4 separate regions of the Homo sapiens genome follow, and all the other regions are linked to region 1. Evidence: fine-mapped QTL for protein levels in blood plasma. Region 1 holds a variant in brackets. A gene starts in each other region. All regions are shown on their forward strands.

Region 1 (8,020 bases):
ACCCATATCTCATGTTGAATTATAATCCCCAGTTGGAGGATTACAACTAAAGGACGGGTCTGTTGGAGGAGGGGCCTGGTGGGAGGTGATTGAATTGTGGGGGGCAGACTTCCCCCTTGTTGTTCTTGTGATAGTGAGTTCTCATGTGATCTGGTTGTCTATAAGTGTGCACACCTCCTTCTTTGCTCTCTTCCTCTGCTCCAGCCATGTAGAAGCTGCCTGCTTCCCCTTCCCCTTCTGCCATGATTGTACGTTTCCTGAGGCCTCCCCTGCCATGCTTCCTGTACAGTCTGTGGAACTGTGAGCCAACTAAACTTCTTTTCTTTATAAATTATCCAGTCTCAGGTAATTCTTTATAGCAATGAGAGAACAGATGAATACAAGAAGGAAACTCCCTCTCCTGGGTCTTTAGACCATTGCCTAAGTTTTTGAAGTTTGTAGGTCTTAAAACCATCTGGATATATGACTTGTTTGTGATGTGGTAGCTTAAATCTAGCTGCAAGTCCTGTGCTTGGAATGTTAGTGTGGTTAGGTTTTGGTCCTATATTTTAATGTGCTGAATCTGTTTGGCCCCTCCTGCTAAGAGTATTCATCTTTTTGAGGCAGCCCAAGCCAACGGGATAACACATAAGCAGCACCACCTGCTGAAATCCATGGCAGAATTGCTTTTCTTTCCTGACCAGATGAGGCCAGATGAAGTTTTTCAGGGACCTGGGGTTGACTGGGAAAGGGACTCTGTCTTTCTTTACACCCACAGTGTGTGGCTTCTGCTTGTAGAGGTGGATGTTGTAACTTTGGTCTCCAGTGGGCTGGTGATCTTGCTCTTTTCTTTCCCCATGCTCTGTTTGTTTTACGTATGCCTCATATGCCCATGTTCTCTCTGTAAAGTGCCTGTCTATGTAGATGAAAAAGCATCCACTCATGGTTACACATTGAATCCATAACTTGGTCTTTAATCAAGTTTACACAGTAGATATCAGAGGAAAGAAAGGTAGAAAGAAGAATGAGAATGAAAGAGAGTGGTGGTGAATGGATTCATGTGGTGGGACTGGGAGCCAGATAGATTTGGAACTGAACCTTTCTGTATTCCCAAACTGTGGGAACTGTGCAAATCATTGAACCCCTCTGAGCTTTTGTTTCCTCATTTGTAAAATGGGTGGAGTTATGTCTGCCTTACAGTGCTGTTGTGAGAATTAAATGATGAAATGGCTATAAACTTCTTGGCACAAGACACTTAAAAATGTGGGGTAGAGAGGAGTAAGTACAACAATTTGCAGCAGTGGTTTTATTTTAGTGGTACCAGCTGCATGGTCTGCCTCCTCTCGATCCAGATGTCAGCATCTGAGGGGGCTCACAGGTGTTTACTGAATCACTGGAGCATGAAGTTGTACCAAACACGTCTGCCCATAGAGCTGTGTAGAGAATAGACTGTGGGCTATTCCAGCTTCCTGGTGACCTTGGGCAAATAATCACCCTGAGCCACAATTTAGAAAGCAGTGATAACATCTTGTGAAGCAGTCAGTTCATTTATTTTCTATGTTAAAGAACTAGAAAAACCAACAGCAAAAAGGTGAGCTTGGAGGCCTGGGCAAACATGGTGAGCAGGGTTAATATCTGTAGAAAGTAAAAAGTTTCCTCTTCAAAGTGTCCCTTGTTGTTAAAGGAAAATAATAATAATAATAAACATTAGAAATAATAATTTCTTTTAAAGACTAACTTTCTTCAAGCCCCCTTACTTTGTGCTAGTAACTCTTTGTTAAGCCCTATTCTATGTAGCTGTTAGATATAAAGGAATAAGTACATTCTATGTCCTTGTACTTTAACCAAGATATTTATGCTGAACATGCTCACAGGTACATTCCAGCTTGCAGCCTATGCCCCTTCCTTATTTGGAAATATTATTACTTTTCTAAGTCCTTTCACAAGCAACGTCCTCTTTTCCTTTGTTGTCTATTGCCTATACCTATTTAGAAAAGTTTTAAATTATTAGCCAGTCAGGTTTTAGCTTAGATTGTGATGTCTGGCTCCAGCCAATGGAGACAGGACACAGTAGCAGGGACAAGCTGCATAAGGGATACGAATTACTTCCCTCCATTGTTCAGGTGTGCTGTCACCATTGTGCCATCTGTGAGGAGCACTCTTTCTGCAGAAAGTAAAATTGCCTTGCTGAGAAAACTTTTTGTCTGAATGCTCATTTTTCCTTGTGGTACTGAGGAACAAGTATTCTGTTTCTGAATAAATATTTTACATATAACAATATCTTTGTTTTTCAAACTTCTCTCTTTTTCCGTTTTCTTTTCTCTTTTCCTATTTTTCTTTTCTTTTCACTCTTGACCTCTTATGATGACCTTTTCCTCCATTGAAGTGCTAATTGATTTTTCATTTTCTCCTTATTTCAAAATTTATTCACATCACAGAATATGGTATAAGTCATTCACACTGCAGTTAGAATTATTCAGTATTTCCATGAGTCATTTCTCAGAAGGGAATGTATATCAAAAGGAGAATATTTTATGGCTTAAATTATTAAATTATTACAGTGAGTATTGTGGAATCAAAATTCCTCACTCAGCAGACAGGTTCTTTGAGAGGGATATAATGGTCACCACTCACGTAAACTATGGTTTTTAGCTCTATGGAAGGCGTCCGCTGACAGAGCAGCCAGAGAGTCAAGCAGCATGAAGGCAAAAGCAGGTGGTAGTGGAGGGTCACCCTAAAGTCTCTTGTCAGGAGGTTATATATGATATTAAGGTTCTCTCCTGGAGTCTGAAGAATCTTGTATATCAAAAGCCCATACTGAATAGGGCATGTCAAGGAGGACAATTTTTTTTTTGGTCTAATGGTAATGGTAAGAGTAGGAGAGAGAGAAGAGGCTACAAACATTGTAATACAGATCATCCCCAATTAGTATTCACAAAGTTTATTCTAATTCAGTTGTATATTCCCTCAATCACCCTAAATCACAGAAGCAGTCTTTCTCAGAAATGGAAGGCATTTCAGCCCAGCTTCCTATCCCAATAGGAGTCCCTTTTACAAGCATCCAGGTGGCTTATCATTTAGCCTTTGCTTGGATGCTTTCTTCAATGGGAAACCCACACCTTTCTGAGGCAGCTCATTGGGATTTTTTTCCAAGGTCAGTGGGGAAAAAAACCCAGGTATTTGGGGCATATAGTGTACCTGGTGATTGTTACTGATTTACTATTTTGCCCACATCTTGTCTTTTGTTCGTGATAGTTCTGTGGGAAATGCCTATTCCTGGTATACCAGGAACTCTCTTGTTCTTCCTTTGACCCTCATCCCTAAGTTACAACAATAACTTAATCTCCCACTATAATTTGTTTCCCCAGAAACAGAAAATAAGGTTTTTGGGATGAGGGTGAAATGAGACAGAGTCATTACTAGTAAATTTGACTCCTGGAGCATGACTTTGCCATTAAATCAACTTTTGGGTCAAGGTGTGGCTCACAGTCGAGTGTTAGAAACAGTGTGTTTCGTCTAGCAGTTTTCTGTTGTAACACTCTGGATTGCTTACTCAGTGCTCTATTTTGAAACCATTATGTGATTTTAAAAAATTTCTTCAGGCTGGGCGTGGTGGCTCATGCATGTTATCCCACTTTGGGAGGCTGAGGCCGGCAGATCACTTGAGGTCAGGAGTTTGAGACCAGCCTGACCAACATGGAGAAACCCCGTCCCTATTAAAAATACAAAAATTAGCCAGGCGTGGTAGTGCATGCTTGTAATTCCAGCTACTAGGGAGGCTGAGGCAGGAGAATTGCTTGAACCCAGGGGGTGAAATTTGCAGTGAGCCGAGATCACGCCCCTGCACTCCAGGCTGGGTGGCAGAGTGAGACTCCATCTCAAAAAAAAAAAAAATTTCTTCAATTCAAGTGTCTGGATGCAAAATCCTATGACCATTAACTAGTGACACTCTGGGTTAAGGAATAGGTGCAAGCTCCCATGTCCCCAAAGCTTAAGCCTCCTCAGTCCAGACTGAGGGCTGGGGAGGGGGCTCCTTTCCCTGGTGATTCAAATTGAAGAAAAGACAGGTTCTCCCATAAGGTCAAGGTTTGGAATTTACATTCTGCCATCACTCTCCAAACGCAGGGGTGACTTTATAATGAAATCAGGCAAAAACTCCTACTAGGGCAATAACGGTCAGGTGTGAGCCTGGTCTGAGAGCCTAGCAGGGGGTAAGCAGAGAGTTTGAGGGTAACAGTCAACAGTCTTACAGATGGATGACTTACCTATGTTATCATAGGGAATTACGATGCTCCCAGAGTCGACCCACATTTTGGTATAGATAAGGAGGCACAGC[G/A]GCATCATTCCGAGGGCAAGCAGTGTGGAGCATGTGGTCATGCTGACGCTGAAAGGCAATGGGCAGATTGATACATCCACCTGTGGTGTTCTAGGGAAGATGCTGTTTTATTTTTATTTTTTAATTTAACTTTTATTTTAAGTTTAGGGGTATATGTGCATGTTTGTTATATAGGTCAACTTGTGTCATGGGGGTTTGTTGTACAGATTATTTCATTGCCTAGGTATTAAGCCTAGTACCCATTAGTTATGTTTCCTGATCCTCTCTTTCCTCCCACCCTCCACCCTCTAATAGGCCCCAGTGTCTGTGTTCCCCTCTATGTGTCCATGCGTTCTCATCATTTAGCTCCCACTTATAAGTGAGAACATGCAGTATTTGGTTTTCTGTCCTTGTGTTACTTTGCTAAGGATAATGGCCTCCAGCTCCATCCATGTTCCTGCAAAAGACTTGATCTAGTCCATTTTTATGGCTGCATAGTATTCCATGGTGTGTATGTACCACATTTTCTTTATCCAGTCTATCATTGATGGGCAATTAGGTTGATTCCATATGTATGCCATTGTAAATAGTGCTGCGGTGGACATATGTGTGCATGTGTCTTTATAATAGAACGATTTGTATTCTTTTGGGTATATACCCAGTAATGGGATTGATGGGTTGAGTGTATTTCTGTTTTTAGGTCTTTGAGGAATTGCCACACTGCTTTCCGCAATGGATGAACTAATTTACACTCCCACCAACAGAAGATAAGTATTCCTTTTTCTCTGTAACCTCGCCAGCATCTGTTAATTTTTGCCTTTTTAATAATAGCCATTCTGACTGATGTGATATGGCATTTCATTGTGGTTTTGATTTGCATTTCTCTAATGATCAGTGATGTTGAACTTTTTTTCATATGATTGTTGGCTGCATGTGTGACTTCTTTTGAGAAGCATCCGTTCATGTCATTTGCCCACTTTTTAATGGGTTTGTTCATTGTTTTCTTGGAATCTAATTAAACTAAAGAGCTTCTGCACAGCAAAGGAAACTATAAGCAGAGTAGACAAACAACCTCCCGAATGGGAGAAAATTTTTATTTTCGATTCATGATAAGAAAGTCCTGCAAGAATCTGTCTCAACCTGTAGCATCGTCTGGTGTGATGAACAGTAATATACATGTGCCTATGTGCCTGAGTGTATTCAGGGCCTGGCCTTGAGCAAAATGGGCCATATTTGGTGTCTTTCCACTTTGCCTTGTGCCGTCCTTCCCTCCCCTTTTATTCTTAAGGGTCAGAAACAGTATTAAACGATGGGTTAAAGTCATCATTAAATAATGTATAAGGTTCGCTGGGTGTGCCATCCTTCAAACATTCAATCAAAGAACAGCAAACACATTTAAAGCAGCTGACACCACCAAGGCTGCATGTGTCTGACCATGCTGAGATGGAATGGGCCTCCCTGGGCCCCTGGAATAGAATGCATGTCCGAGGGAGGAGGCCTCGCTGTGTTGCCATAAAGCAGAAAAATTACTGCCCAAGTGACCCTAGCTTGGGACAAGAAGCGGAAGCTGACTTAAAAATCAAAAGAAAGCATGCAAGCGGCAGGGTAGACATAAATTCTTAGCACTGAGTAAGTTATTGGCAATTTGGCAAATGTGTGTTCAGAAGAACTAGTGTCTGGTATCATCCCTGCTCAGAGTGTTTGCATTTTAATAAGAGGGTCTGGCTGAGTAGGCTATCTACATGGAGACATTAATGCCAAATGATGCTATCTCTAGTACTAGGACAGTGGGTCAAAGAAAGATTTTTGGGGAGTGAGTCTTCCGGGTCCTCTTCAAAGGGATCTGTACACAGCGTACATTCTCTGCCTTTAAAGCCTGAGCTCTAAAGCCACACACTGTCTGGGCTGAAAGCAGGCGGTGCCACTTAGTGTGTTAATTTGAGTAATTTAGTTGACTTCTCTTTACCAGTTTCCTTATCTAAAATGGCTGTAAGGATAGAATGAGCCAATGGTGTCCGGCACTTAGACCAATGCAAAGCACTCTATTAAGAGCTGGTTGCTACTACCATTTTTTTTTTTTTTTTTTTTTTAAATAGGGTCTCTCTCTGTCACCCAGGCCAGAGTACAGGGTCACCAACTTGGCTCACTGAAGCCTGGGCTCAAGTGATCTTTGCACCTCAGCCTCCCGAGTAGCTGGGAATACAGGCATGAGCCACCATGCCAGGCTAATTTTTAAATTTTTTGTAGAGATGGGGTTTCACCATGTTGTCCAGGCTGGTCTCAAACTCCTGGGCTCAGGTGATCCGCTCGCCTAGGCCTTCCAAAGTGCTGGGATTACAGGCGGGAGCCACCGCACCCTGCATCTCTCTGCTGTGATCATTTATGTTACCATGTTTTTGTATCTTGTGTTCCACCAAATAGAATCGGGAAACTTAGAGAAATGAGAAATTTCTCTGAAAGGCCCTTCTCTCAACAGGTCGTCATTGAGGTTGTCAAGAGTAGTAATTTCTTAAGGGTATTATGGGTGTACTTGAAAGAAAATGTTAAATATTTATATTACCTGCCCCCCAAAACAACAACAACAACAACACACTATACTAAGAAAGGAGCTAACAATGAGAAATTTTGTTTCAAGGCACAGTTAAATTTGCACAGTTTGGCAAAATACAGGGTGGGACAAAGTTCATCAGAGAGCTTAACTTCTCTAATAATATATTTATTTTTAACCAGAATGACCTCATTTAAAATAGGCTTAAATAATTTAGATAAAAATACTTGTTTTAGTAGAGCTAAAATATTACAACAGTAACAAATAATGTGGATGTATTTAAAACTTTAAGCAGTTCAATCTATTCTGGTTATAGGTAAATTTAGGCATGAAATAGATGCTAAGGCAGAATTGTACACCAGACAAACAAGTTAATTTGTTATTAATAGTACTTTGTCCTACTTATAATGAAAGTACTGGAGTTTGAAGGTAATTTTTTTCTCTGTTCCTTCCTCTCTTCTTTCAGTGTTCTCTTTTTTTTTATTTTATTTTAAAAAATATATTAGAATGGATTTAAAGTTGTCCCTATAATAAAATCACTTTTTTTTCTGTGCATCCAATATTTTTTTCTAGAGTGTGGTGGGAATCTGGTGGGGAAGTGAGGAGGATTTATTAACTGGGTTCCAGTGAAGAGAAGTCTGAGAATTTTTGTTTTAAAATGTGAGAAAATGTTTAAGAAGGAAGTCTTTTTCTGTCTTTGTTTTTTTTTCAAAGATCCTTGCAAAACCTTTAATTCTGAATATTGCTAAGACAATCTATGACGTTGTATCATAATTTTGAGTTTGGTGAGAGCAGTTTCTTAAGGATCGTGATGAGGGACAAAAGAGGGTTTGGAGAAGGAAAGGTTTAGACTTGTGAGCAGCACTGACGAAGAGACCTTGCAGATGAACAGACGAATAGGTAGCTGGAAGTTGATGCTATTTGAATGAATATAAGAACAAAATCAAACCACTCAAAATGAGATTTAAAACAATTCACAGATAACGAATTTTAAGAAATAATATAGAAGCCTAAATTAGCAAAAGAAAATATTATCTTACACGAAAAAATCTGAAGTTCTATAAAAGGCATGTATATAAAAAATACATACACTGCCTTGAATTTATATTAGACTGACAGAAAAGAGTCAAGTATAAGAAAAATAAAAAAAAAATCTTGGTCTTAATTTTGACTTCAGC
Region 2 (8,020 bases), not on the chromosome of region 1:
CCTCAGCCTCCCAAGTAGCTGGGACTACAGGCATGCGCCAACAGCCTGGCTAATTTTGTATTTTTAGTAGAGACAGGGTTTCACCATGTTGCCCAGGGTGGTCTCGAACTCCTGAACTCAGGTGATCCACCTGCCTCAGCCTACTAAAGTGCTGGGATTACAGGCGTGAGTCACTGCACCCAGCTGGCACTTTTTTTGTTTGGTAAATGAGGACCAAATGGCAAATATTTTAGGCTTTGTGGGCCAATCGTCACAACTGCTCCATTCTGCTAATGTAATGCCAAAGCAACCCTAGACAATATGTAAACAAATGAGCATGGCGTGTCCCAGTAAGAATTATTATTATTATTATTATTTTTTTTTTTTTTTACAAAACCAGGCTGCAGGTCAGATTTGGCCCATAGGCCAGGTGCGGTGGCTCACGCCTGTAATCCCAGCATTTTGGGAGGCCAAGGCGGGCGGATCATGAGGTCAAGAGATTGAGAACATCCTGACCAACATGGTGAAACCCCATCTCTACTAAAAATACAAAAATTAGCTGGGCGTGGTGGTACGTGCCTGTAGTCCCAACCACTTGGGAGGCTGAGGAAGGAGACTCGATTGAACCCGGGAGGCAGAGATTGCAGTGAGCCAAGATCTCCCCACTGCACTCCAGCCTGGCAACAGAGCGACACTCCATCTCAAAAAAAGAGAAAGATCTGGCCCATAGGTTAACAACCCCTGTCCTGACATGTCCTTTCCACCATCATATCTGTGTTCCAGAAAGAGGAATGAGGAAGTGGAGGGGTTGAATTTTCTCACAAAAACATGATCCACAGGTAGAAATAGTGCAGCATAGTCACACAATAGAATACTACGCTACAACAAGAATGAATGAACCACAACTACACACAACGCGGATGAATCTCACAAGTATAATGTAGAGCAAAAGAAGCTGACACAAAAGATTGCATATTGATTGATTACATTTATATAAAGTATAAAAACAGACAAAATTAATCTATGGTATTAAAAGTCAGGTTGCCTTTGTAAGGGATAGTGACAAGAGAAGACTTCTGAGATCTGGAAATGTTCTATTTCTTTTTCTTTTTTTCTTTTAGAGACAGGGTCTTACTCTGTTGCTTAGGCTGGAGTACAGGATGCAATGGTGCAATTGTTTTATTTGTTGATCTGGATGGCATATGTTCCCATGCATGAGTGTGTCCACATGTGAAAATTCACTAAGCTTACCATTTGTGTACTTTCCTATATGTATACTCCAACAAAAAAAAGTTTGTATAAATTTCAAAAAAAAAAAAATAGTGATTCTGAAGTTGCAATCACTTCTCAGGTCTCTTTCGGCCAAAACTTAGAGGACCACTTATGACTGCAGGGAATCTGGGAAATGCAGGTTCATTAATTTTTTTAATTAATTAATTTATTTATTTATTTTAAGATGGAGTCTTGCTCTGTCACCCAGGCTGGAGTACAATGGCGTGATCTCAGCTCACGCCACCTCCCAGGTTCAAGCGATTCTCCTGCCTCAGCCTCCTGAGTAGCTGGGATTACAGGTGCACGCCACCATGCCTGGCTAATTTGTATTTTTAGGAGAGATGGGGTATCACCATGTTGGCCAGGCTGGTCTTGAACTCCTGACCTCGTGATCCGACCACCTCGGCCTCCCAAAGTGCTGGGATTATAGGCATGAACCACCACGCCTGGCCTGGGAACTGCAGTTTCCAGTTGGGTGGCCATATGCCTCTAAAATTTAGAGGATTCTCTTATTAAAAGGAAGAAGGGAAGAATGTAATCTAGGGGGAAATTAGCAGGCTGTGCTACAGTCCACACAGCAGCACAGGCCCATGACAGTTATCAAATCCTGCTGGGCATGAGCTGTGAAGACCTCCACCCTGGCAGTAGAGTAAGTTCTTTGGTTAGCCCACCTGGCTGCCCTTGCTACTGTTTTCTGGGAATAACTCCCTTGACCTTAGTTCTCTGTATTATCTGAGTTTACTCTCAGATAGGTTATTCGTTTACTATAGAGCATGGTCACACCTTTTTGTCCTTCTTCCCTTTTGCTTTTTTTTCTGCTTGGAACTTGGATATAATGGCAGGAGCTGCATCAGCCATCTAGGGGCCATGAGGGAGTCTTAGAAACCTCAGCCCTGATTTCCTTGGTCTTACGACATTAATAACTGGCTACTTCTGACATTCTTCTATGAGAAAATAAACTCTTATGGTTTAAACCACTGACATTGGGTCTTTGTTACCCAGAGCCAAACACAATTCTCAACTGATATGGAAGGCCTCCCTAAGAAGATGACATTTAAGCTGAGGCTTGAAGGGTTAGCAGGTGGCAGATACCAGAATAGCAGAGGAAAACCAAAAGCCCTTTCCACTCCACTACACTGCTGACTGTCTATCATCCTCTAGGTAGGGAGATAAGAGACTGGAGAAGTCAGGAGAGGAGATTTCAAGGTGGGATTGATTGGCCAGGAATGATAGTGATGCTGTGAGGAAAGGAGGGCTTGGTGATGTGCTCTCATCTCCATGTGTACGTTTCCTTCATGGCACTTGTCACACAGAAGTTGTGATGACATGATGAACACCCGTCTGTCTGTTCTGCTAGACTGGAGTCTCCATGAGGGCAGGGACAATCCTTTCGACTGTTTATCACTGGCATAATGCCTGGCACATGGCAACCATGGAACAAGTTATTGGATAGGCCGTAGTAGAAAGAGCTAGGGTAAGAGGAGGGAGAGAAAAGACACAGAAGCAGAAGAGTGGAAAACCTGGGATTGTGCAGGCTCCTTGTTAAGGGGACACCATCCCATTAGAGCACCACAACACTCCTCAGAGGCAGACAAGGGGGATTGAGGTCAAATGGTTCCTTCAGGCACCCACATGGCATGGGCTGTCCAGCTCACAGCCTGTCTCTCCTGGCTACCCAACAGGCATGATGAGCTCTGAGTTGGCTATCAGTGGTACCCCCCTCCCTAGCCATAACAATTGATCCAAGACATAGGTACATGACTCAGGCTGGACAATTAGAGTCCTTTCCAAGAATTTTTAAACAAGAGCTAAGAAAAGTAGCTACTTCCTCTGCAGCTATGAGAGCATGAGCCTGGGTTTCCTATCATCTGGTCAAGCTTCCCGGAGGTGGCCAGCCTGGGGTAATGAGCCTGGCACCCAGAGAAAAGCAGGGAAAGAGCCACAGAAACAAAGCACTACGGGTCGTCAAATCCCTGGTTCCCGTATGCCTCAGGTCAGCTCCACCCTGCCCTTCCTAGTTTATGAGCCAATAAATTCCTTTTGTGTTTAAGAGAGTTAGTGTTGAGCTTCTCTCTTGAAATCTATCAACTACCTTTCTCTCCAAAATGCACCCTGAATCTGACCACTTCTCATCATCTCCACTGCCACCAGCCTGGTCCAAACTACTAATATGTTTTGCCTGGATGAATATAACAGCCTCCCAATGGTCTCCCTGTTCCTCTCTTGCTCTCCTACAATCCATTTTCCACCCAGCAGGCCAAGTGATCTTAGACAAATGTCAATTAGATTATGTCACTTTCCTGCCTAAACCCTCCAGTGGCTTCTCATCACTTTTAGGGTAAAATACAAACTCCTTACCCTGTTTTACAAGGCCCACCATGAGGAGTGGATACTCCTGTCTGTCCTCTGACTTTATTCCATGCCACTTCCCCCTCATCACTATGATTCAGCTATATTGGCCACCTTTTTGTTCCAGACACATTAAGCTCATTATTTCTTCAGTGTCTTTGTACCTGCTTGCTTTCTTTTCTTTTCTTTTTTTTTCTGAGATGAAGTCTTGCTCTGTTGCCCAGGCTGGAGTGCAGTGGTGCGATCTCAGCTCACTGCAACCTCCGCCTCCCGGGTTCAAGCAGTTCTCCTGTCTCAGCCTCCTGAGTAGCTGGGACTACAGGCGCCTGCCACCACACCTGGCTAATTTTTTTATTTTTAGTAGAGACGGAGTTTCACCTTGTTGGTCAGGCTGGTCTCGAACTCCTGACCTCAGGTGATACACCTGCCTTGGCCTCCCAAAGTGCTGGGATTACAGGCATGAGCCACCACGCCTGGCCTTTGTACCTGCTTTTTCAGGTCTTTGCATGGTTAACCCCTCATCATTCAGTTTTTAGTGTAGTAATATAGTAATCATGTCTCCCCCACCTCATCCCTTTCTATCTTATTATGTTGTTTAAGATATTCACAGAAATGATCACTGCTATAATTATCTTTTAATTATGCTTTTGCTTACTTTTTTGTTGGCTATCTCCCCTGGAGTTTGAGCTCCAATGGAGCAGGGCCCTCACCTGTCTTATTTACCATGTATCTACACAGTAGATGCTCAAGTAACATTTATTCAATGAATAAATGAATGCATTACAAAATGAGGAGGAGCTGGAGTTCCAGGCAGCCCCTAGATTCCCTGTTGGGTCTTCTTTCCTCTGCCCCATGCACACACAGTACACACTGTTGACTAATGTTTAACTCATAGAGGAGTTTGGGCTTGACATGTGACCTCACTCAGCCTCTGTTTCATTTGTGAAGTAAGAAATAAGAGTGGGCGGCTGGGCGTGGTGGCTCATGCCTGTAATCCCAGCACTTTGGGAGTCTGAGGTGGGCAGATCACGAGGTCAGGAGATCAAGACTATCCTGGCTAACACGGTGAAACACCATCTCTACTAAAAATAGAAAAAATTAGCCGGGCATGATGGCACATACTTGTAGTCCCAGCTACTCAGGAGGCTGAGGCAGGAGAATTGCTTGAACCGGGGAGGTGGAGGTTGCAGTGAGCCAAGATTGTGCCACTGCTCTCCAGCCTGGGTGACACAGCGAGACTCCATCTCAAAAAAAAAAAAAAAAAAAAAAAAGGAGTGGGCTTATTTCACATAAGCCCACTCCTTGCTAAACCAACAATGATTGCCTAAGATGCACGGAGCCAGTTGGTGGAAAAGTCCATAGACTATCAGAGTTGAATGGTGCTGGTCAGGTGGGAGGAGCACCTCATTCCTGCTTCCCCATCAAGTTACTTGCCTTGGCCTGCTTCCTACTCTCTGGGTCACTGGTGCTCACACAGCCTTTCCCAACCCCCACCTCCAAAGGTCATATTTTACAGCTCCTTGTGAGGAATTCACATCATGCCATGACCTTCACTATGAGAAAGCACAGGCTGTAAAAGGCCAGCCTGGCTCCCTGCTCCGTGGTTAAATATTGATGATATTGGGCAATAGAGACCTGGAGTGGGCACACTACATATCCCCCTGCAGTGATGGAACCCACAGACCGCAGGTCCTCTGCAGTCCATTCTCCTGCCTGTCCAGAGGATCCGGATGTTTTCTCTTTACTTGAGGCCAACACATAACAATGAAAGCACTGGGCTACTGGTGCTTTCGGATTGTGAAAGTCAGGTGGAGCCTGTTTGCACTCTGAGTGCACTCATTCAAGAGGTCAGTCACCCTGGAGTGATACAGAAGGCTCCAGGCCTGGGCGTGTGCTAAGGCCAGAGCTACCAGATGGGTCCAGCTGCCGCAGGCTCTCCAGGCACTGTCCCCTAAGTGACAGCTGTTACTGCCTGGGAGAGCTCAAGTGCAAAGACTATCCTGTTCTCCCATAAAGAGGAGGAAAAGGAAGATACAGAAATCGGTGCTGCTCCCAACAGCAGATCAAGGCAGTCGTCAGGAACTCAGGATCCGGGGTGAGTGTCCTCATCTTGCCTTGGGGATGGGTGGCCCAGGTCTTTGGCAGAAGTCACAGTCCAATGGCACGATGGTTAAGCCCTGTTTAAAATGCAGAGATCTCCCAGAGGGGCTTAAGGAGACAAGACAACTAAATGCAGTATGACATCCTAAATGGGATCCTGGAACAAGAAAAGAACATTAAAGGCAAAACTAACAAAATGCAAATAAGGCATAAAGTTTAATTTAATCATGCAAATGACAATATGATGCTCACTTTAGAAGCAAACTGGATACGTGCTTTGATAGAAATATGTCTTTGGCCGGGCGCAGTGGCTCACGCCTGTAATTCCAGCACTTTTGGAGGCCGAGGCAGGCCGATCACCTGAGGTCAGGAGTTCGAGACCACCCCGGCTAACGTGGTGAAACCCCATCTCTACTAAAAATACAAAATTGGCCGGGTGCGGTGGCTCATGCCTGTAATCCCAGCACTTTGGGAGGCCGAGGCAGATGGATCACCTCAGGTCAGGAGTTCCGAGACCAGCCTGGCCAATGTGGTGAAATGCTGTCTCTACTAATAATACAAAAATTAGCTGGATGTGGTGGCGGGCACCTATAATCCCAGCTACTCAGGAAGCTGAGGCAGGAGGATCACTTGAACTCGGGAGGCGGAGGTTGCAGTGAGCTGAGATGGTGCCACTACACTCCAGCCTGGGCAACAAGAGTGAAACTCTGTCTCTAAATAAATAAATACAAAATTAGCTGGGCATGGTGGTGGATGCCTATAATCACAGCTACTTGGGAGGCTGAGGCAGGAGAATCACTTGAACCTGGGAGGTGGAGGTTGCAGTGAGCTGAGATCATGCCATTGCACTCCAGCCTGGGCAAAAAGAGTGAAACTCTGTCTCAAAAAAAAGAAAGAAATATGTCGCTTGTTTCTGTGGCATCTAACATAGCTGAGGAGGGCTGACTCTCGGTTCTGGATTTGTATCCAATTTGTCATTTTGGTTTTTTGTTGGTTGGTATGTGTTTACTGTAACAATATTAAACATATTTTAAACATATTTTGGCCAGGCGCGGTGGCTCATGCCTGTAATCCCAGCATTTTGGGAGGACAAGGTGGGCAGGTCGCTTGAACTCAGAAGTTCAAGGCTGGCCTGGGCAAGATGATGAAACCCCATCGCTACAAAAAATACAAAAATTAGCCGGGCGTGGTGGCACATGCCTGTTGTACCAGCTGCTCAGGAGGCTGAGGTGAGAGGATCGCCTGTGCCCGGGAGATGGAGGTTGCAGTGAGCCAAGATGGTGCCATTGCACTCCAGCCTGGGTGACAGAGCCAGACTCTGTCTCAAAAAACAAAAAACAAAAAAACACCACTCCACTGTGGACAATAGCTTACCTGCGTCTTTGTACACTGATCTGATTAGTTCCATTAATTAAATATCAAAAATTGGAATTGTTGTCTCAAAAGGTATAAGTACAATAATACCTACATTTAAAAATGCATACAAAGGCTGGGTGCAGTGGCTCACACCTGTAATCCCAGCACTTTGGGAGGCTGAGGTAGGCGGATCACCAACCTGGCAAACATGGTGAAATCCCATCTCTACTAAAAATACAAAAATTAGCCAGGTGTGGTGGCACATGCCTGTAGTCCCAGCTACTCAGGAGGCTGAGGCAAGAGAATTTCTTGAACCTGGGAGGCGGTGGTTGCAGTGAGCCGAGATCACACCATTGCACTCCAGCCTGGGCAGCAAAAACAAAACTCCATCTCAAAAAAAAAAAAACATACATACAAATAGACAAAATATACATAGAAATATATACACACATTAAAAATGGAATTACATGTATTGTTCTCATGAAAGCAGTGTATACGCATAAGAAACCACACAATACAGGAGTGGTCAACATGAATATCCCATGTGTCTAAATCTCATCCCACACCCTAGAAGAAGACTGTGTTTGGTTTCTCAACTTCAATACTTTTCTTTGTGAGTTCAGGGGTTTGCATATGGCACAGGGGCCTGTGGCTGATGTTACTAATCAATCCAGGCACTCTTACATCTGAGACTGGATGGAATGTCACAATCCTTCTTGGACAGTGCTCTGGACAGTCAGTTGGAGCTAGAACACAAGATCACATCTGTTGGCCATTCTTGTAACTTTGTCTTTCCATGATTTTAGATGGGTAGGTAGGCAGATAGATAGATAGACAGATAGATCGATAGATGATAGATAGATAGATAGATAGATAGATAGATAGATAGATAGAATCTCCCTCAAATGAGTAAGTAGGCAGTGTGCATGTGAGTCCTTGAAAGTCTAAGAAAGGGCCAGGCACG
Region 3 (8,020 bases), not on the chromosome of region 1:
GTCTTCATAATAGCTATTAGCACTTTCCAGGATGTTTTAATACAACAAAGATATATTTTAACTGTTTCATTATTTGAAGATTGCTACTGGTTTCAGTGCTTTGGAACATCTTTAATAAAATAGGAGCCTTGCATTTATTAGCATATTAATATTTTGGTTTGTTTAAATGTGCCATATATATTCTGTATTACATAAGGAAAACAATGACTATAGCTCTTTAAAGACAGATATCAGAACTTGGTGGAGAAATGGCTGATTCGAGGTCTGGACAGGAAATAAGCAAGTGATCTGGAACATGTCAAACCAAATACTAAAGAGGCTATCAAAGTTATTAGGATCATTTCAAAAGAACTTGAGTCACCTTGAAGAAGCTCCTGATGGCCAGAGATGGAACAAATTGCACATTAATAAGGGTAAACATTGTAATGGAGCTGATCTATTGTTTCATAAGGATACTTAAAGAAATACTAACTTATCACTGTTGGATAATATTAGTAACTTAACTCATCACTTGCAATCTGGTAAGTAAAGAGTGAGAAAGAAGTATTTTATGCCACTTAAAAAATATTAAAAATGGGATACCCAGGTAATTAAACAGTAAATGAGAAGTTTCTCCTTATAGAAAGTGTTCCAGCTAATAAAGAAAGAAAAGTTGATGAAACTAGAATATCATCACTTTGAACCACTTAATGAACTAATGATGGATTTTGGCACTTGACCATCAATGGCTACGAACGTCACAAAAGAGGGACACAATCAAACCTCCAGTGCCTCCTCATGAAAGAATACAAAATCACTTATGATTGTCGTGTGAAAAAAAAAGGACCTTGAATTGTATCAGGCTGCACCACAGGTATGCAAACAGCAAAATCCAGACTGTGGGCAATGTGATAAAACAAACAACACACACCAGTGCATAAAATTTCAGTAGGGAGAAAAAGAGATGTTGACTGAGGGAGAATCAACAGATTAAAATAGACATGAAACATATATTAACCAACCACACAGTGTGGACCTTATTTAGATCCTGATTCTAACAGGAACATTTATGAGGTAATCGGAAATTTCAGCCCTGAATGGGCTCAAATTTGACAGTTTGATTAAAATTGTCAAATCAATTTGACAATTGATTTAAAAAATTCTTATTAAATTTTTAAAGTGTAATAATGATATTGTGGTAACATTTTTTTTTTTCTGAGATGGAATCTCACTCTGTCGCCCAGGCTGGAGTGCAGTGGTGCGAGCTCGGCTCACTGCAACCTCCCCCTGCCAGGTTCAAGCAATTCTCCTGCCTCAGCCTCCCAAGTAGCTGGGACTACAGGGGCGTGCCACCATGCCCGGCTAATTTTTCATATTTTTAGTAGAGGCAGGGTTTCACCATGCTGGCCAGGCTGGTCTCAAACTCCTGACCTTGTGATCCACCCATCTCGGTCTCCCAAAGTGCTGGGATTACAGGCGTGAGCCACTGCGCCTGGTTGTGGTTACATTTTTTCAAGAATTATTATGTTTCAGAGATATATACTAAAATGCTTACAGACAAAATTATATATCTGAGATGTGCTTCAAAATAATATGGGGTGGGGGAAGTGAATACAGTAAAAATGGAGAAAGATTGGCCATCTTTCTGTGGCCACCTGGGCTGGCCAATGGAGTTGATTACCTATCCTATCTTCTTTAGTGAATATTCAAAGTTCTCCAAAAAAAAAAAAAAAAAACAAACAAAAAAAAAACTAGAAACAAAACAAAACCAAAGAATACAGGTCTTTCTTTTTTTGTATAACCTGCTCCCAATGTTTAATCAATTTAAGTATCTCAAGGGAAGAAATGTATCAGAACTAACTAAAAAACTGGCATATATGTAGCATGAGCTACATTAAATATTTGCAAAAGCAGCCCATTTTTTTAACCTAAAAACAGCAGCCCATTTTTTTTGCCTTCTTTATTTTACTTTTTTAAATATTTACTTACTTATTTAAAAGTCACCAATATATCCATTTGTACTCATTAGCACTACTGATCATTGAATGGAAAATCAGTCTATACAATAAAGCTGTATTCATGTAGTTAAGTTTAATTAAGTTCATCATTATTTTAATAGAACAGAAATATAGCAACACATAGGTATGAGATGTCTGTTTACTAAAGATCAGGTACAAAAACAAAACCAGAGTTCTTTCATCCTTGGAGTGGATAAGGTAGCTTTTAATCCAGTATACAAAATACTTTTTTCATTTAAATACTTTGTGCTATTTCCACTGATTGACATTTAAACAATCTTTAATTGTACCATATATGCTAAAAATGATAAGGTCAATGTCCCAACATCCCAGCCTGCTCTTTTCATACCTTGTTTTTCCATTATCTATTGATAGATATCAGTTATCAATTTGTTGGTTATGTCTATGTCAATGGACTTTCAAGAGAAACATAACAAATTGCTAAAATACAAATCCTGTCAATTAAAAGGTAGGGTGATGACACATCAAAATACTGACTTTAAAATGCCAATACATATATATATCCACGGTCTTAGTTTGATTTTCTTATGATTTAGGAATTTTATCATTTCCCCCTCAAGTTTTTCATGACCCATTTTTTTTGTCTTTGAGGCTCTGAAAATGATCTTTATTGTCCCACACCCTGCGATTCACCTGTTCAAACCCAGAAGTGAAGGGCGGGAATCAGGACCCGGGCTCCGGATGGAATCAGACCATGTTTTTACCACAGAGTCCTTAAATTAGGGAGGCCTGCTTGATATACAACTAAGGAAAATTGTCCTTTAATTAAGGGGCATTTGTGTTCCTCTGTGATTTTTTTTTGCAGCAATATGAAAACATTTATGAAATGTTTATCCTCACATTCTGAAGTGCACTTTTTTGAGTCCTTGGCTCATTTTCAATTACTGAAATAACCAAAGAAAGAACAAACAAATCCAAACAAGTACATGGAAAATACATTTTCCCCCTTCTCTTATTTCTCTAGTGTACAGTCTGTTCTTGTTTATGATATTTATATCAAGATCCCCTTTCTTGCATAAAATTGATAATTAAAAGGAAAACACTTACCCAGAACAAGAAGTTGAAGGTAAACATAGAATATTTTATACAGGCACTCACACCTGCCATTTCGGAAAAGGATTAGGAATCCAGATGCCGTGAATTTAACTATTCGTTACAGGCTTGTCCTGCAATATGCTCTGGAGCAACTTGCCTGCAGAGATTTCTGTATCCACGGCTTCAGAGCAGAAAGAGAAAGCAAAGAAGTAGAGGGAGGAATAAAAAGTTATTAAACTGGATAAAAAAATTAACCCACACATTTAAATATCGCAAAGGCTATTAACCCACACATTTAAATATCTCAAAGGCTATTAACTCACACATTTAAATATCGCAAAGGCTATCTCCAGGCAAGTATGTTCCTTTGCTTGTCATAGCTCCTGGGGCACTGGGCCAGGATATTTATGATCCTTTCTCAAAAACTGCCTCCTCTAAAGTAAACAGATATCAAGTGAAGGGAATGGCACTGGATCAGGCAAGAGAATGGCACAGTGCTACTAAGTTCTTGGCTTTCAGAAACCACTGCCTGACTTCCCCGCCCTCCATTTCAACTATGGGGAAATAAGGTTGTTTTGTTCTGAGTTAAATGGACATTGTATCTCTACTCATTTTTGCATTGCATTTTCTCAATACTACAAAATTCCTTCTAAATGCAATAAAATGCATTTAGAAATCTGCAAAATATCAAAGCTTAGACATAGCAACCTGTTATCATTAAACCTAGAATAGTAAAATAACCATTACATGTATCTGCCCTCCAAAACATCTAAATTTATTTCAAAAGAATTCCAGAGCTGCCGTAAATACACCACAGAAATTGCAGAGGGAGAGGCAGCCTTGCCTATCATGATAAGACCATTTGCTTTTTATCTTTATTTCTTTATGATACAAAGGGAAAGAAATCATAAAGTGGCACTGACTGCAACATTGTTTTCATTTTATAATGCGTAGTCATTCTGATAGCTTGGTTTGTTTTTAAGGTGGACACTGTAATTTCCTTCCTCTGATAAATTGTATCTAGCAACAGCTGTTCTCCACCAACTCAGTTTCTGGATTCCAGGTCCTCCCGGACAAAAAAATTCAAAATGGGAAGGTGGTCATGGATCAGTGACCATAGATTTTACTATTTGTTTCTAGTGCTAATAGAAGGCAGCTGTCTCAGGTAAAGGCAAAATGCTCCGACATCATCAGGGAGGTGTGGACTGCTTTGTGTAAACAGCCTGGGTCATGTTAGTTTCCACATCCTGCCTCTCAAAGGGAGTTCTTCTCCCCCTAAATAAAAGAACCCTCTACTTTAAAAGGTTGTTGAGAAAATTATTCTTTAGAATCTTTGCTAAGTTTTACACGATAAGCAAGCATGAACTCCTTACAAAAGAAAAATATTATTTCTAATTTTCACTGGCATACAATGTTTTTGAAACAATTCTACTCCCTGACTACAAATACAATATATTTTAATGCATTATCAACAATAATATATAGCGTTAAAGGCCAAATTTAGGATTAATTCCAAAAATAATGGCTTAATATATAAATCATCACTAAAATTGTTTGTGTTCTCTTTCCTACTAGAAAATGGATAGTTTCACAACCTTCTATTGAGATATTTTGTATATAGAATAATCCAAGGCTGAAAGAATAATTTCAGATTGAATGAAAACCAAAATTGATTCATAGTCCCAGAAATGATTATTTATCAGAGGCTAAAATTAAAAAAAAATTACAGATTTAAATGCTGCTTTGTTGAAAAGAATGTATTGAATACTACCAAATTTTAGTTTGAAATAGATATTTTGGTGGATGCTGAACATCCTTAAAAAGAATACTGTGTAGTCTTTAGTTGAATCACTCTTGAACTCTGTAACACAAAAATCAATGGATGTGTTTGTACAGGAGAATGACTGTGTAATAGAACCCCTAGTCTAATTCAAAACCTATATGAAACAGTTCACTCCTGGAAATTCCTATTCCTATTAATGTTATAATCACACAACACTCTCCCAGGCTGAATTTGTACAGATATTTTGTATTTCTCTTTCTTTCCATCCAATCACTCTTACTGGTCTGTGTAGCTCCTAAATTACTGTCAAAACTATTTCTTCCATCTCATCCTTTTGCATTTCATTATTCAGTCCTTTATCATTTCTTACTTGAGCTGTGTCAATAGAATGAGAATTAATTTCCCTGGCAGTTTCTCCCAGTTCCTCTCTGCCTTAGCACTTTAAAATTCTTTTTGAGAAATACTTATTGATTAGGTAATGATAATGATGAAAACCCAATCTAAGGATATTTTCCTTTTACCTACAAGATAAAGTTCAGATTCCTTAAAGTAGCATTTACAGCACACAGCAAACAAGTCCTCCACCCACTTTCCAGAATTTTGTCCCTCCCCTTTCTTCCTAGGCAGCCTCCACTTCTAGGCTCCATAACCACAGAATTATTTCCCAGGCCTAGAACACACCTTTGGATTTTATGCCTTGTTCCTTCTGCCTGGAATATCCTTTCCCACCTTCTCTATTGCAACATCCCTGTGGAGCCTTCCCTTCCTCATCCTCTGCCCCCACTCTGGGCAGATTTACTTGCTTCTCAGTCCTCAAGTCCATTATTATTTGAACAGACCTTAAATCTACAATTGCCACTATATCACATTTATTTGTGTCTCTCCCCCACATTTGATTCTATATGCCTGAAAAGCAGAAATCTTACCCTATTCACCTCTGTACCTACAGTAGCTGGCATTAGAGCTACAGAGATTTGCAATGGCAGCCAAGCTCCTCAGAAAGTTCAACTAGTGATTTCCTCATTAGGTTCTCTAGGGAACTACCAATATGCTACCTCTGCCTTTAAAAAATCTATTAGGTCAAGAAAAACAGTTTATTAATTTCAGGACTTGTCAGAGCCTTCAACTTTCTAATATTCAAGGAGGTGATATATAGCAATTCTGAAATGAATATAATCTCAGAACATATTTTTGAATGACATATTCAGGACTGGTGTTACAGAACACACATACGCACTTACAGAAGCACTGTTCTAGACAAACTCTCACTCTTACACCTGAGAAAAGAGCAGCATAGGCAGATTGAGTAGCCCAAGTTCACAAAACTGGTTAGATCTCCTTCTAGAAACAAGGTCACAGGATTATCAGATCAGTATTCTGTCTACTGGCGTCAACAATCTCTTGAGTTCTGTAGTATGAGAATGAGTCATTTACTCATTACTCATTTAACGTGTCTTAGATATTGAGAAATTTTCATATAACAGATATTTTAACAGTGGTGGGAGGTTGCAGGGGTTGGAGATTGTCAGTAATAAATCTTAGACCCTGTGAAAGACCGGGCCAGTAAGGAAAGAAATGGAGAGTGAAATATTATAAGAAGAAATGACAATCGAGGGAAAGAACAGAGGGAAAGTCTAAGTAAATTTAGATAAAGTTTTTCTAATGTTGCCATCATGCCAATTACTATTCATTGCAGCAAATGCACAGAGTAAGGCAGGATAATGATTCCAATTTGATTAATTGTGAAAAGTCTCCATGAGGCAGTCATCAGTGAACTAGATTTTGATAGCAGTATGGGAACCCATGCAGGGGAAAGAAAGAGAGAGAGAGATTCCTTATGCTCAGGGCAGAGGAAAGTGCATGAGTAGTACCATCAAATACCCCACAGAAAATATGGCATTTTCTCTAAGTCATCAGGCAAACCAGGCCTACGTTTGGGACTTGGACCAGAAATTAAGCATAGATAGTTCATATTTTCATCATGATATCATCTTCTCCTCCATAAGATAATATTCAAAAATTTATTCAACTGATGTATTGAATCCTTACCATATTCCAGGAATGAGACTAAGTGCTGGAAACATAGTAATTTATGAAACAAGATAAAAATCCCTGCCTTCCTAGGCCTTACACCATGGTGAAAAGGTAACTTCTTTGCCTTTTTGTTTCCAACATCTCGTTACCCGATATATTTGTCCATGGAATAGACAGTAAAAAAGCAATTCATGTGTGGTAGAGAAAAGATTATTTTTTTCTCTTGTCTTTTATACTCTCCCATTATCACTGTCCCTCTATACTATTTGTTTTTCATGACGTTGTTAATAATCAATTCATGTTCTCAAAGGCTAACAGCAGCAATAAAAACATAATGTTGAGATTTCTCTTCCTTATGACTGTACTGAGGGGTGTGTATGTAAGGACATGAGATCATACACTCTGAACAATTTGAGTGAAGAGATTCTGGTGCTTTTAGCATGTCTCATTTTGAAAAACCTTTTTTATTTTTGGAAAGTTGGAGTTCTCACTTAGGGGTTTTATGGTCTCTTTTACAGGAGCAGAGCCTTGGCTCTTGTGTTCTAGTCCCATTCTAGCCTTCCTGAGACCAATATTCTTCTTCTGCTTTCATGTGATCCCAATGCTCTGTTTCCTACCCTCTGTGCTTATGGAGCCTGGCTCATAAAAACCTTTCATGTATTCCCACTGGAAATGCACCAGATAGGAAGCATCCGGTATGGGAAAGATGCCTCTCCTCTCTTTGCAGGACATTTTAAAGCAACTGTCTCTACTTGAGAGTATTAATTCCAGCTCAGAACTAAAGTAGGGGTTAGAATTGTCATTGTGAAGTAGCAATACAGTGTTTACAGAAAATGGATACCCAGTATTCAACATTCTTCCTCTTCTATAGATACTTTATTCTAAAATATTAATGACTTGCACCTGGACATAAATTTACCATATAGGACACATAAGGAAAAATATGGAAATGTGTATGAAAGAAACAGACTTTAGCTCACCAAAATATGTGTGTATAAGGAAAATTGAGGCAAAATGGTGCAGTGATTAAAAATGCAGTTTATAACCATGGCAGATTAGAGATGCTGTGGATTCTTATTAAGCCTCACTATGGCATTTATACTCCTTTTACAGCAGGTTAAGAGACCAGCTGCTGGGTGGGAACCAGGGT
Region 4 (4,433 bases), not on the chromosome of region 1:
GGCCCCGCCTGGGCTTCAGGAGCCAAGGTCATATCCCCCAGGCCAACGCATCTAGGGGGAATCCCTTGGAACTCACCTTAGCTTAATTCTTTCCACCTCCTCCAACCACCCACCTCTGCTTGAAACACACACACCAACCTCCAGGATCTGATCCCCCAGCTCTTACCCTAAGTGTGCCCTCTGGACAGCAGGCAGTATATTTGGGTGAAAAGCCTTGGGTTTCCTTACCTGTTGGCAGCCGCTGAGACAAGACAGGAGGAGCCAGCTCACCTGAGCTCAGCTCTTATACCTGGGGGAAGGGAGGGGAGGCAGGGGGCTGGGCCTAAGCCACCCCTGCTATTGCAGCAGCCTGGGCTATGAGCCAGCTTTATGGGCCCCACCCTCCGCTGGCCAGAGTTCCAGAGCCTACCATGACCCTGCCACGAGGAGGGAGCCACAGAGGGCTGGGGCTGGGAAACCCCTGGCCTCCGATCAGCATGCAGAGTCACAGAGAAAGAGAAGCGAGAAGGCTGGGGAGACAGAGAGGACTTCGAGACCTCATGGGGTCACCCTAGGAAGTGGAAGGGCCCTGGCGAACTGCAGGGCAGGGAAGGAGAGGGGGTCTGAATCTGTGACCAGGAAGGAGAAGCAGGAGCCTCTGTACCCTCCATGTGTGTCTGTCTGTCTCTCTCTCTCTCTCACGTGCACACACACACACACACACACGCACACGCACACTTCTCCCAGTCAGGCCCAGCTTGGATACTGACACTCAAGCCTGCCTGGATCCCAGAGCCCAGCCTTTACCAGTCCTGGAGGCAGAGAGATGAATGTAGAGAACTTGGATCAGGAGGAAGCCAGAGAAGGGCAGCCTGATGGAGGGAGGCAGATTGAGTGAGTGTTTGCCTGACCTCCCTTCAGCTCCCCTCAGCGGCCCAGAGTGCACAAATGCAAGGCCCACTTGAGCTGCTTGGCAGCTAACACCAACTCCAAACTGGTCGGGCCACGTGTTTCTCTCTCCCTCCCTCAGAGCCCCATGCCTTCCCTAACCCAGCTGCAGAGCAACAGCCCCCCATCCAGGACCCAGAATGACATCCCAGAGAGCCCAACCCCAGTGGCCCTCCTCACCTGCCCAGGCCCAGACACCTAGAACCTGAAGTCACTGGGAGGGGGTAGGAAGAAGGGCAGAGCAGTAGGCATGAGTCAGGGCAAGGATGGGGTGCGGCCCAGAGCCAAAGTTCCCAGGATCCTTTCCTAAACGCTGAGATCAGAGCACACCCCACTACATCCCTCCTCATGTCACCTTCTCAACCTGGGGCCCTGTGTGTCTCAATGGAGAGGACCTTCCAACAATGTCTCATTCTGAGAGTTCCTCTGAAGGGCTTCAACCTGCAGGTCCCTCTGAGGGTCTCTCAGCCTGTGGGTTCCTCTGAGAGTGACTTAGCCTGGGTTCCTCAGGAGGAGGCTCAGGCTAGGGGGTTCCTCACAGGGCTTCTCACGGTAAGGGAGCCCTTCAGTGCAGGAGCCCCTCTTGAATGTCTCTGCCAATGGCCCTTTGGATTCCCAGTCTGGGAGTCTCTCTGAGGTCTCAGTCTGGGGCTCTCTAACGGAGGGTCAGGGAGCTCCCTCAGCCTAAAGGTTCCTCTGGACTCATAGCTGCCCTGCATGGATGCCTGCCAGTGAGGCAGTGACAGCCCTGGGAGGCTGGTCACCGAGATGCCCGCCCCTGCTCCCTCTGGTGGTGGCCGTGTACACCATATGCCCCTCAAGCCAGGAAGGCAAGGCAAGTTCTGCCTCCGGTGGCACCACCACACCCTCACCCCACGGTCCTTGAGCAGAACATCGGGCCCCTCCTTCTGGCTTCCCCACTGCTCCAGAGGGTAAGGGGAGGAGGCCCTAGTGTTCCTGAGCACCCAGCCAGAGAGGATCCTGGTTAATCAGAGCTCTGAAATCCACCTATTCTTGTCTTTATGACTTTAACTAAGATCTGTGTCCTGATCTTTAATACAGGAGTTAAAAATAGTGCCTTCCTCAAAGGACTGTGAGAATTAACTAAGACAATACAGGCAAAATGTTTAGCACTGCACCTGGTACTTAGTAAGCCCTCCATACCTGTTCACCACTATCATTGTCATCCAACGGACAAACTCCAAGAAAAAAGAAGCAGAGCAGGACCATGCAGCTGAGCCCGAGTCACCTCTCCTGCCCCACATCTCTGCCCCTACTTTTCTTTTTTCTTTTTGTTTTGTTTTGTTTTTTGTTTTTGAGATGGAGTTTTGCTCCTATCGCCCAGGCTGGAGTGCAATGGTGCGATCTCGGCTCACTGCAAACTCCTCCTCCTGGGTTCAAGTGATTCTCCTGCCTCAGCCTCCTGAGTAGCTGGGATTACAGGCACCAGCCCAGCTAATTTTTGTATTTTTAATAGAGATGAGGTTTAGCCATGTTGGCCAAGCTGGTCTCGAACTCCTGACCTCAAGTGATCCACCCACCTCAGCCTCCCAAAGTGCTAGGATTACAGGCGTGAGCCACTGTGCCCAGCCCTCTGCCTCTACTTTTCATATATTCATTCAACCATTTATTGGGCACCTGCTCTGTACAAGACCTGGTGCTAGATGCTGCGGAATTCAAAGATGAATAACATTCCCTGTCCTCAAGGGGCTCATAATTTTCAGATCCATCCTCAGGTCAAGAGAGAGCTTTCCCACTCTCTGGTCTCAAGAAAAGAAATCAGGATGGGGTGTAAGTAAGAAACATTTGTGTTTCAAGGAGGAAGCTTTATTTGGGAAGAGTGCGGTTCTGCTCGGCCCTGATCAGCTCTGCCCTGCCCACCCCATCTCAGCCAGGCGGCTTTACTTCTTCCTGATCTTCAGGTCTTTCTTCTTCCTGATTTCCTTGGCCAGCTCCCCAATCAATCTCCAGTACTCATTGAACTTGAGCTCCGAGTCCTGATTCACATCCAAGCTCTTCATCTTCTCATCAAGAGAGCCCACATCCTGAGGAGACACCAAAGGGAAGGGTAGAGTTAGAAACTGGGGTTCTTGAGAAAGTAGGGAGGGAAGAACTGTCAGCTGCTATTCTCTCAAGGCCCTTCCCTCAGAGAGCAGTGGCACCTGCCCCTTCTCTAAAGAAGGAGGCTGCAGCCCCAAAACTGCACCGCCACGGGGTGCCTCTCCAAGGAGCACCAGCAGAGAAAGGTGGGGGGGCCTGAGTCCTAGTGCTTGCCGTTGTGTAAATACTTCCACGATGGCTGCTTACAAACCACAAACAGGTTGTCGCTGAATACAAAGCTGGAAAGAAATCCACACAATCTTCTCTCACCAGCACACCACTGCAGCTGCTGTGGGATCGGCCCAAGGAATGCCAGCATCTCAGGGAGATGCTGCAGGGTTGGACCCAGTCAGAGCCTTCTGGGGCCACCCTCCTCTTTCTCAGAAAGCTGGAGAAGCTCCCAGTACTTAGCTGCTCATTTGCACAACCCTTGTGTCTTTTCATTTATCCAGCTGGGTCACTAGATCAGGGGAATGGCAAGGGCATGGAGTATCTGGGTTTTTAGGGGCCCTTGACAGGGTATCTCTCATAGGCCTGTGAAATCAATGGCAACAGTAAACTGGATGTCCTGATCGAAGGACCTGTTGCCAGATAAACAAGCACAACCAAAAAGTTGACTGTTGAACAATAGTTCAACATCAAACCAGAGAAGGGTGCCTCAGGCAGGGTGTGAGGCTCAAGGTTTGAACCAACATTTGGATGCAGACAGAGAAGACTCACTGAATCTCTAAAGGGAACAAAGCTGATTCACAGAAGAACTAAAAAAGACTTTTTTTTAAGTTACAACCACGTTTAATTATAAAATACTATAAGCACTGCCAGTGGAAGGCAAGGATGGCTACTGTAACATTATATTGGGGGTGCATTCAATCAGTAAAGAGAAATAAATAAGTATTAAGAAAGAAGAAGCAGGAAGGGTGCGGTGGCTCACGCCTGTAATCTCAACGCTTTGGGAGGCTGAGGTGGGCGGATCACTTGAGGTCAGGAGTTTGAGACCAGCCTGGCCAACATGGTGAAACCCTGCCTCTACTAAAAATACAAAAATTAGCCAGATATGGTGGTGGGAGCCTGTAATCCCAGCTACTCGGTAGGCTGAGACAGGAGAATTGCTTGAACCTGGGAGGCGGAGGTTGTGGTGAGCAGAGATCGCGCCATTGCACTCCAGTCTGGGCTACAGAGTGGGACTCTGTCTCAAAAAAAGAAAAAAAAATACAAAAATTAGCTCGGTGTGATAGTGCACACCCGTAGTCCCAACTACTTGGGAGGCTGAATCAGAAGAATCGCTTGAGTGTGGGAGGCAGAGGCTGTAGTGAGCCGAGATCAAGCCACTGCCCTCCAGCCTGGGTGACAGAGTGAGACTATCTAAAAAAAAAAAAAAAAAGAGCTGTGACAGAAACAAAACAAAG

Alleles and levels. Alleles are on the strand shown, and positions count from the first base shown. The strength of an association depends on the size of the effect and on how common the allele is.
As copies of A replace G in region 1, the plasma level of the protein whose gene starts at base 5,500 in region 2 goes down (weak association).
As copies of G replace A in region 1, the plasma level of the protein whose gene starts at base 3,446 in region 3 goes up (weak association).
For the plasma level of the protein whose gene starts at base 259 in region 4, A is the low allele of the variant in region 1 and G is the other (weak association).

The links. PIP is the chance, under the fine-mapping model, that this variant and not a neighbour inherited with it causes the effect. Protein levels are from antibody-based Olink assays in UK Biobank. Linkage for the fine-mapping came from a reference panel and not from the study's own genotypes, which makes the PIPs less certain.
Region 2: it holds the start of SLC51B, and the variant in region 1 is fine-mapped to the plasma level of the SLC51B protein (UK Biobank, PIP above 0.99).
Region 3: it holds the start of TSPAN8, and the variant in region 1 is fine-mapped to the plasma level of the TSPAN8 protein (UK Biobank, PIP above 0.99).
Region 4: S100A14 starts here. The variant in region 1 is fine-mapped to the plasma level of the S100A14 protein (UK Biobank, PIP above 0.99).

What each region holds. Positions count from the first base shown.
Region 1 is chr13:103,054,020-103,062,039 of GRCh38, forward strand. It overlaps SLC10A2 (solute carrier family 10 member 2), which reads right to left. Exons shown (of 6, transcript NM_000452.3): 2 at 4,245-4,363. Among named protein-coding and RNA genes, the nearest start is that of SLC10A2, 8.4 kb to the right of the region's middle. The variant G/A (reference allele first, on the strand shown) is at 4,316.
Region 2 is chr15:65,039,888-65,047,907 of GRCh38, forward strand. SLC51B (SLC51 subunit beta) reads left to right here and starts at 5,500. Exons shown (of 4, transcript NM_178859.4): 1 at 5,500-5,695. It also overlaps a transcript of RASL12 not described here.
Region 3 is chr12:71,154,554-71,162,573 of GRCh38, forward strand. TSPAN8 (tetraspanin 8) reads right to left here and starts at 3,446. Exons shown (of 9, transcript NM_004616.3): 1 at 3,377-3,446; 2 at 3,066-3,234. The coding sequence starts at 3,125.
Region 4 is chr1:153,616,067-153,620,499 of GRCh38, forward strand. S100A14 (S100 calcium binding protein A14) reads right to left here and starts at 259. Exons shown (of 4, transcript NM_020672.3): 1 at 229-259. S100A13 (S100 calcium binding protein A13) reads right to left here. Exons shown (of 3, transcript NM_001024211.2): 3 at 2,733-2,972. The coding sequence ends at 2,829. RefSeq lists an enhancer at 198-698 and a silencer at 379-428.